Homo sapiens: one gene and its partner. The protein of the gene in region 1 purifies or fractionates together with the protein of each later gene. This does not show direct contact. Each region holds a gene or a part of one and is shown in the gene's direction. Other genes may lie near its edges.

Evidence for each region.
Region 2: the proteins of OCM2 (region 1) and ZMYM6 purify together in Homo sapiens (affinity purification with mass spectrometry; one large-scale study listed by BioGRID and IntAct). This does not show direct contact.

What each region holds. Positions count from the first base shown.
Region 1 is NC_000007.14:97,987,909-97,991,826, reverse strand, and holds the start of OCM2 (oncomodulin-2), read left to right. Parts: upstream 1-1,630; 5' UTR 1,631-1,722; coding exon 1,723-1,783; intron 1,784-3,278; coding exon 3,279-3,411; intron 3,412-3,918.
Region 2 is NC_000001.11:35,021,901-35,025,718, reverse strand, and holds part of ZMYM6 (zinc finger MYM-type protein 6), read left to right. Parts: intron 1-3,818. UniProt on the Homo sapiens protein: Plays a role in the regulation of cell morphology and cytoskeletal organization.

The sequences.
Region 1 (3,918 bases):
CCACTGCACTCCAGTCGGGGCAACAGAGCAAGACCCTGTCACAACAGAAACAAAATCTTGAGGTGTCTAGTCCTGGCCTCAGCCTCAGAGTATTTGTTTCTGAACTTGTTAGTTTTGGGGGTTGGGGATGCTGGTTTGATTTCCTCCTTTTTGCCTTTTGAGTGTGTGCAATTTATGGTATAGCTGGGAAACGTAAAAGTCAAGAGTTTTGTAGGAAAATCACGTCACTTAGCCCTGTCTCCTGTGCCGGACGAGTCCTGTGTGTGCACTTGGTGACAATGGCTTTGAGTCTTCAACTCCAGATTGAGGTCAGCCTTACACATCCATAGTTCCCAAAGCTGAAAACAGGCCTGCCTCCAACGGTACCTGCTAACATCTGGGGAGCTTTTCAGCTTACAGAGCACCCTGTATGTGTTTGTCTTAGTTCAGGCCACCATCTCCAGCTTACCAGGCTCTAGAACCTTCTCCACACTTTGCCAACAGGGTTCGTTTGCAGAATTGAAACCTTAGTTAAGGTTTGTTGAGGTTGTTGTTGTTGTTGTTGTTTTTACAATTGGCTATTCCCACCCACATTCCCTTGAGACATAAATAGAAAAAAAAAAGAGGTTTCCTGAGTAGGACAAGACATTTGAGCTGCATCCACTTGATCCTTGAAAAGGAAATCTAAGAGGTTGTAACTATCACTTTTTCTAGCCTATATAAGGTAGGTCAGTAAGGTAGCAAAAGCACATCTGTTGTTTTGCTCCTTCAACTCTTTTTCCTGATTCTTCCTGGGGGAAAACCTAAAACGGTGAGTAACTGGTGGACCCATCAGACCCCAGACTCTTCTTCACTGCATGCATTCATATTAGGCTCAGGTGCTTAGACTCCTGTTTTCCCATGGCTCTGACATCTGGAAGGATTTTAATCTCTGGGAGATGGGCTTTTCATCCATCTGCTTCCCACCTTTCAGGACAGGTAGCATGTCTTCTTCCACAGAATGTCTGCAAGCAGCCCAAACTGTATCCTTTCCCACGTGGAATTTGCAACAGTGCATCTCTCGGACTGCTGTAGGAAAATGCCAGTGCATTTGTAACATGGTTTACGGCTGCCTATGCAAATGACTGATTATGTCAGTATAATTTTTATAAGAAAACAATTGAATCCTTCTTTGGGTCATGTTTTTTTTTTTCATTTTTGGCATATATTCAAAAGAAGGCTCTGAGACAAAAAGGGCTGGGGTCTTTTTGGTATCTGGTTTTAATTTGGATATTCTGTCCCGTCACTTAATACAAAACCATGCTTATCACATTTTAAAAATTCTAGACAGGCCTGGCTTGGTGGCTTATGCCTGTAATCCCAGCAGTTTGTGAGGCCAAGGCAGGCAGATCACATGAGGTCAGGAGCTCGAGACCAGGCTGGCAAACATGGCAAAACCCCATCTCTACTAAAAACACAAAAATCAGCCAGGCCTGGTAGTGCGCACCTGTAATCCCAGCTACTCGGAAGGCTGAGGCAGGAGAATCACTTGAGCCCAGGAGGTGGAGGTTGCAGTGAGCCAAGATTGTGCCACTGCACTCCAGCCTGGGTGACAGAGTGAGACTCCATCTCAAAAAAAAAAAAAAAAAAAATCTAGACACACATACAGTTTCAGTGGGCCTGGGAAGATGTGTTTCCCCTGGATGTGCACGTTCCTGTTTGTGGCTTATCGCCTCTCGTTTATTCTGTGTGAGTAGGTAGAAAATGAGCATCACGGACGTGCTCAGTGCTGATGACATTGCAGCAGCGCTCCAGGAATGCCAAGGTAGAGGGGACGTGGGGCGGGGGTGGGATTTCCTCACAGCTTTGCCCCTCCAGCGAGGCAACACAAAATCAAAATGTAGGCCAGGCGGCCAGACGCAGTGGCTCACGCCTGTAATCCTAGCACTTTGGGAGGCTGAGGTGGGTGGATCACGAGGTCAGGAGTTTGAGACCAGCCTGGCCAAGATGGTGAAACCCCATCTCTAATAAAAATACAAAAAAATTAGCCAGGCGTGGTGGTGGGCACCTGTAATCCCAGCTACTCGGGAGGCTGAGGCTGAGAATTGCTTGAACCCGGCCTTTTTTGTAGACTCTGTCTACAAAAAAAAAAAAAATGTAGACCAGGCATGGTGGCTCACATCCGTAATCCCAACACTTTTCGGAGGCCAAGGTGAGAGGACTGTTTGAGCCCAGGAGTTTGAGACCAGCCTGGGCAACATAACAAGACTCCATCTCTACAACATAACAATAAAAATAAAAACTAGCGGGGCATGGTGGCATGTGCCTGTGGTCCCAGCTACTCTGGAAACTAAGGTAGGAGGATCACTCAAGCCCAGGAGGTTGAGGCTGTGGTGAGCTATGATCGCTACACTGCACTCCAGCCTGGACGACAGAGTGAGACTCTGTCTCTAAATAAATAAATAAATAAATAAATAAATAAGTAAATAAGAGCTTGGCTGGAAAATTCATGGAATCAGAGAAGAAAACTACTATTTATTAGATAACTAAAATTATAGAGATCTGGGATCTGAGCACACGATTACACTTCTGTAAGACAAAAGAAACCTACTAAACATGAAAGCAAGAAATCACTGAAGGGCCAGGTGTGGTGCTCACACCTGTAATCCCAGCACTTTGGGAGGCCAAGGCCGGTGCATCACTTGAGGTCAGGAGTTCAAGACCAACCTGGCCAGCCTGACAAAACCCTGTCTCTATTAAAAATACAAAAATGAGCTGGGCATGGGGGTGCATGCCTGTAATCCCAGCTACTCGGGAGGCTGAGGCAGGAGAATCAGTTGAACCTGGGAGGCAGAGGTTGCAGTGAGCCGAGATCACGCCACTGCACTCCAGCCTGGCGACAGAGTGAGACTCTGTCTCAAAAAAAAAAAAAAAAGAAAGAAAGAAATCGCCAAAGGCCATTTAGCCTGTTGAAATCCAGTGATTGCATTTCCCCCTACCAATTAGACCAGGGATGTTGGGGGCTCGGCCACACAGCCTGTAAAGTGGGCCAGGGGGAGGGGGAGGCACAGAGGAGAGGAGGAGGGAAAAGGAAAATGGACAAAACCAAGTGGAGGAGGGAAGACCGGGGCGGAGGGGACATGGGATGCCATCACAGAGCCATCAAGTCTTGGCTGTCCCAAAATCTTAGACCAGTTGAGCATCCCCGTAGCTCAGGGATATTGTTGAAGTGTTTTTAATCATCTGTGTTTTCAGTACCTTGGCCCCAACATAGAATGTGATCCAATGAGTGTCAGAATAACCCATTCTCTGTTCTTCAGACCCAGACACTTTTGAACCCCAAAAATTCTTCCAGACGTCAGGCCTCTCCAAGATGTCAGCCAGTCAGGTGAAGGATGTTTTCCGGTTCATAGACAACGACCAGAGCGGGTATCTGGATGAAGAAGAGCTTAAGTAAGCTTTGTCCTGAGGCTGTCTGGTACCTGGCACTGCTGGGTGGGCCTGGGGTGCAGTGGGGGCCAGGTTGCTCAGTATTTCTTCAATGGCCAGCCTTGGTGTTGGTCATTCGGCCAAGCATCATTAAAGCAAAGGACATGAGTCAGTTGACCGCACATCTACCCATGCAAAGCCCTCAACATGGGCAGTGAAGACTACAGGTGCAAAGATTCTTTTTTTTTTTTGAGACAGGGCCTCACTGTCACCCAGGCTGGAGTGCAGTGGGGTGATCTCAGCTCCCTGCAGCCTCCGCCTTCCAAACTCAAGTGATTCTCATGCCTCAGTCTCCCAAGTGGCTGGGATTACAGGTGCTTGCCACCACATCCAGCTAATTTTCATATTTAGAGTAGAGATGGGGTTTCACCATGTTGCCAGGCTGGTCTCAAACTCCTGACTTCAAGTGATCCTCCTGCCTTGGCCTCCCAAAGTGCTGGGATTACAGGTGTGAGCCACCGTGCCCAGCCG
Region 2 (3,818 bases), on another chromosome or scaffold:
ACTTTGTTTTCAGAAAGGCTACAGAGATGAAAAGATAGGACTTCTGCTCTCAAGGTAATTGATAGTGTAATGGAGAGAAAAGTTATGAGAATGAGAGAAGTAATATTTGTTGAGTGACTGTGCCTTGTGAGAAGCTATGCTAAGCATATCTTATGCATTCTCATTTAAACCTAATTGTCTTCAAACTTGTATGCTTTCTGCTGCTTTGTGCCACCTTTTTTTTTTCTTTCTTTTTTTTTTTTTTTTTTTTTTGGGATGGAGTCTTGCTTTGTAGCCCAGGCTGAAGTGCAGTGGCGCCATCTCGGTTCACTGCAACCTCCACCTCCTGGGTTCACGCAGTTCTCCTGCCTCAGCCTGCCGAGTAGCTGGGATTACAGGTGCCCACCACCACACCTGGCTAATTTTTGTATTTTTAATAGAGACGGGGTTTCACCATGTTGGCCGGCTGGTCTCGAACTCTACCTGCCTCGGCCTCCCAAAGTGCTGGGGTTACAGGCGTGAGCCACCGTGCCTGGCCTGTGCCACCTTTTGTGCAAATACAAAATCAAGGCCATGAGTGGTGGCTCATACCTGTAATCCCAGCACTTTGGGAGGCCGAGGTAGGTGGCTCACTTGAGGTCAGGAGTTCAAGACCAGCCTGGCCAACACGGTGAAACCACAACTCTACTAAAAATACAAAAAAATTAGCCAGGCTTCGTGGCACATGCCTGTGATCTCAGCTACTGGGGAGGCTGAGGCAGGAGAATCACTTGAACCCAGGAGGCGGAGGCTGCAGTGAACAGAGATTGCTCCACTGCACTCCAGCCTGGGCAACAGAGCAATATTCCATCTGAAAAAAAAAAAATACAAAATCACAGTCTTAGGTAAGTGCTTTAAAATTGTGTGAGGTGCATTGGGAGCATAGGGGAAGGAGCCCTAAATCTATATGGGAAGGAGAGGAAGGTTTCACATAGCAGGTAGCAATTGTATTATAAAAATTGACTAAGAGTTTCAGACAGAGAAAATATAGCAGAGAAAATAGCCACGTCATGGAGGGGTGAGAGAATGTGGTGTGTTTAATAGTTGAGTATCAACAATAAAGTGGGAAAAGATAATAGATTTAAAAATGGTTAGGTAGGATTGATCAAATTTAGAGATTGTTTATGGGTGTGAAGGTCAAAGAGGAGTCCAAGGATACTTACAGGTTTTGGGGTTTATGGTGATACCATTTACTGAGGGGTTAGAACAGGATTTTGGAGGAAGTACTAAGTGCAGTTTGAGGTCTGTTGTGTTTAAAGGGCTTGTGGGACATTCAAGTGGTAAACTGCACAAGGAGGCATTTGCACATAAAAATCTGGGATTTGAGATTAGAAAGTTATCTACTTGGAGATGTAGGGCTTCCAGATAAAATACAGGATGCCAGGTTAAATTTGACTATCAAATAAACAATGGTGATTTTTACTATAAGTGTATTGCTTGCAATACTTGGAACATAATTATTCTAAAATAGCACTATTTCAGCTATAGCTAAAAAGAAGGTTTCCTTTTCCTGTAAGATAGCAGGACAGTTTGCTGAGCAATTTGTAGGTAAGGTGGAGGGGGCTGAGGGATGTTGAGGGAGTTCTTAGTTACTTGTTTTTACCTGGTGCAATTGAAACATCAATGAGCAGGAAAGATGTGGAGTTGGGACTCGTGAGCTATGAAGGTTTAGAAAAATTACTTTGTGAGGTAAAAGAAACTGGTCAGGGAAATATAACAGAAATACTAGAAAAATTTTAGAAATTGAGTTGATAAGGCAAAGAAATTTTTATTGAATCTGGCCGGGCGCGGTGGCTCATGCCTATAATCCCAGCACTTTGGGAGGCCGAGACGGGCAGATCACGAGGTCAGGAGATCGAGACCATCCTGGCTAACACGGTGAAACCCCGTCTCTACTAAAAATACAAAAAAATTAGCCAGGCATGGTGGTGGGCGCCTGTAGTCCCAGCTACTCCGGAGGCTGAGGCAGGAGAATGTCGTGAACCTGGGAGGCGGAGCTTGTAGTGAGCCGAGATCGTCCACTGCATTCCAGCATGGGTGACAGAGCGAGATTCTGTCTCCAAAAAAAAAAAAAAAATTTTATTGAATCTTAAACACTCATTTTGGTAATTTGAAGATGTATATAATATTTTTAATGTCCTCTTCATTTTGCAAGTGTCAATAAATATTGTTATTTAAGTATAATGTTTAAGAACATGCACTTTGGATTGAATAGACTTAGATTCCTTCATTTAGCAAGTATTTATTAAATGCCAGTTATGAAACTAATAAATAAGTATGAGAACTAGCATTTTGGCCAGGTGCAGTGGCTCACGCCTGTACTCCCAGCACTCTGGGAGGCCAAGGCGGGCAGATCACCTGAGGTCAGGAGTTCGAGACCAGCCTGACCAACATGGAGAAACCCCGTCTCTACTAAAAATACAAAATTAGCCAGGCGTGGTGGCGCATGCCTGTAATCCCAGCTACTGGGGAGGCCGAGGGAGGAGAATCGATTGAACCCTGGAGGTGGAGGTTGTGGTGAGCTGAGATCCGCCATTGCACTCCAGCCTGGGCAACAAGAGCGAAACTCCATCTCAAAAGAAAAAAAAAAAGAACTAGCATTTTGTGTACATATCGTGCTTGCTTTTGACTAACTGTAAGATGTCATTCTGTATACCTTATTTATATTAAGTCATTTGCCCCCTCCCTCCCCGTTGGCCCTATGGGTTAGGTAATATTATCTTTATTTTACAGATAAAGAAATTGAAACTAAGAAAGATTAAATAGCTTGTTTAGGAGTCAAGATCATATCTGTTTCTGTCTGCTGTTAGAACCTATAGTCATTACTGTTATGTTGACTGTGTTGGGCGATTGGGTATACAGGGGTGAGAAAAACAGGTATTGTCCATAATGGATGTGATCTTTTTAGTCTAATGTGTGTGTAGGGGGAAGGATGAATGTTAAGCATTAATCAAATTATCCAAATAAGCAATGAAATGATTTACTATGGTAACTGCTGTGAGAGAAAGGAGATGGGAGAGACTACTGCAACAGGGGAACTTAATTTCAGTTGGACCAGAGTTTGAATTCATTGTAGTAATTACTTTATATTTTCACATCTATGACAGTGCTATCTTGGGTTTTAGAACAGAGAGACTGGCTGGGTGCGGTGGCTCATGCCTGTAATCCCAGCACTTTGGGAGGTGGAGGTGGGTGGGTCACCTGAGGTCAGGAGTTCAAGACCAGCCTGACCAACATGGTGAAACTCTGTCTCTACTAAAAATACAAAAATTAGCTGGGCATGGTGGTGAGTGCCTGTAATCCCAGCTACCCAGGAGGCTGAGGATCACTTGAACCCGGGAGGGAGAGGTTGCAGTGAGCCGAGATGGCACCATTGCACTCCAGCCTGGGCTACAGAGCGAGACTCCGTCTCAAAAAGAAAAAAAAAACAAAACAGAGAGACTGGGTTTGATTCCCATCTGTGCACGTAGTCTCTTTGTGACCTTGGGCAAGTTGCTGAACATCTCTTAGCTTCACTTTCCTCATCTATAAAGAAGGCATATCTTATAGAGAGCACCTCTTTGGGTGCTCATAATACATATCATGGGAAGTGGTGAATTAATGCAATGGTTCCTAGTTTTTGGCATTTAATAGTCTAAAGAAATTTCTAAAGTAACTTTGGAACTAACATAGCTACTCATTTATTTTGCTATGTGTGGAGAGATTAAAAATACAACTGCCATTTATTACCATCATTGATTCAGAAAAGTAAGACTTTTTAAAAAACTTCCTGTTTTGAAATATGTAAGGGTATTTTAACA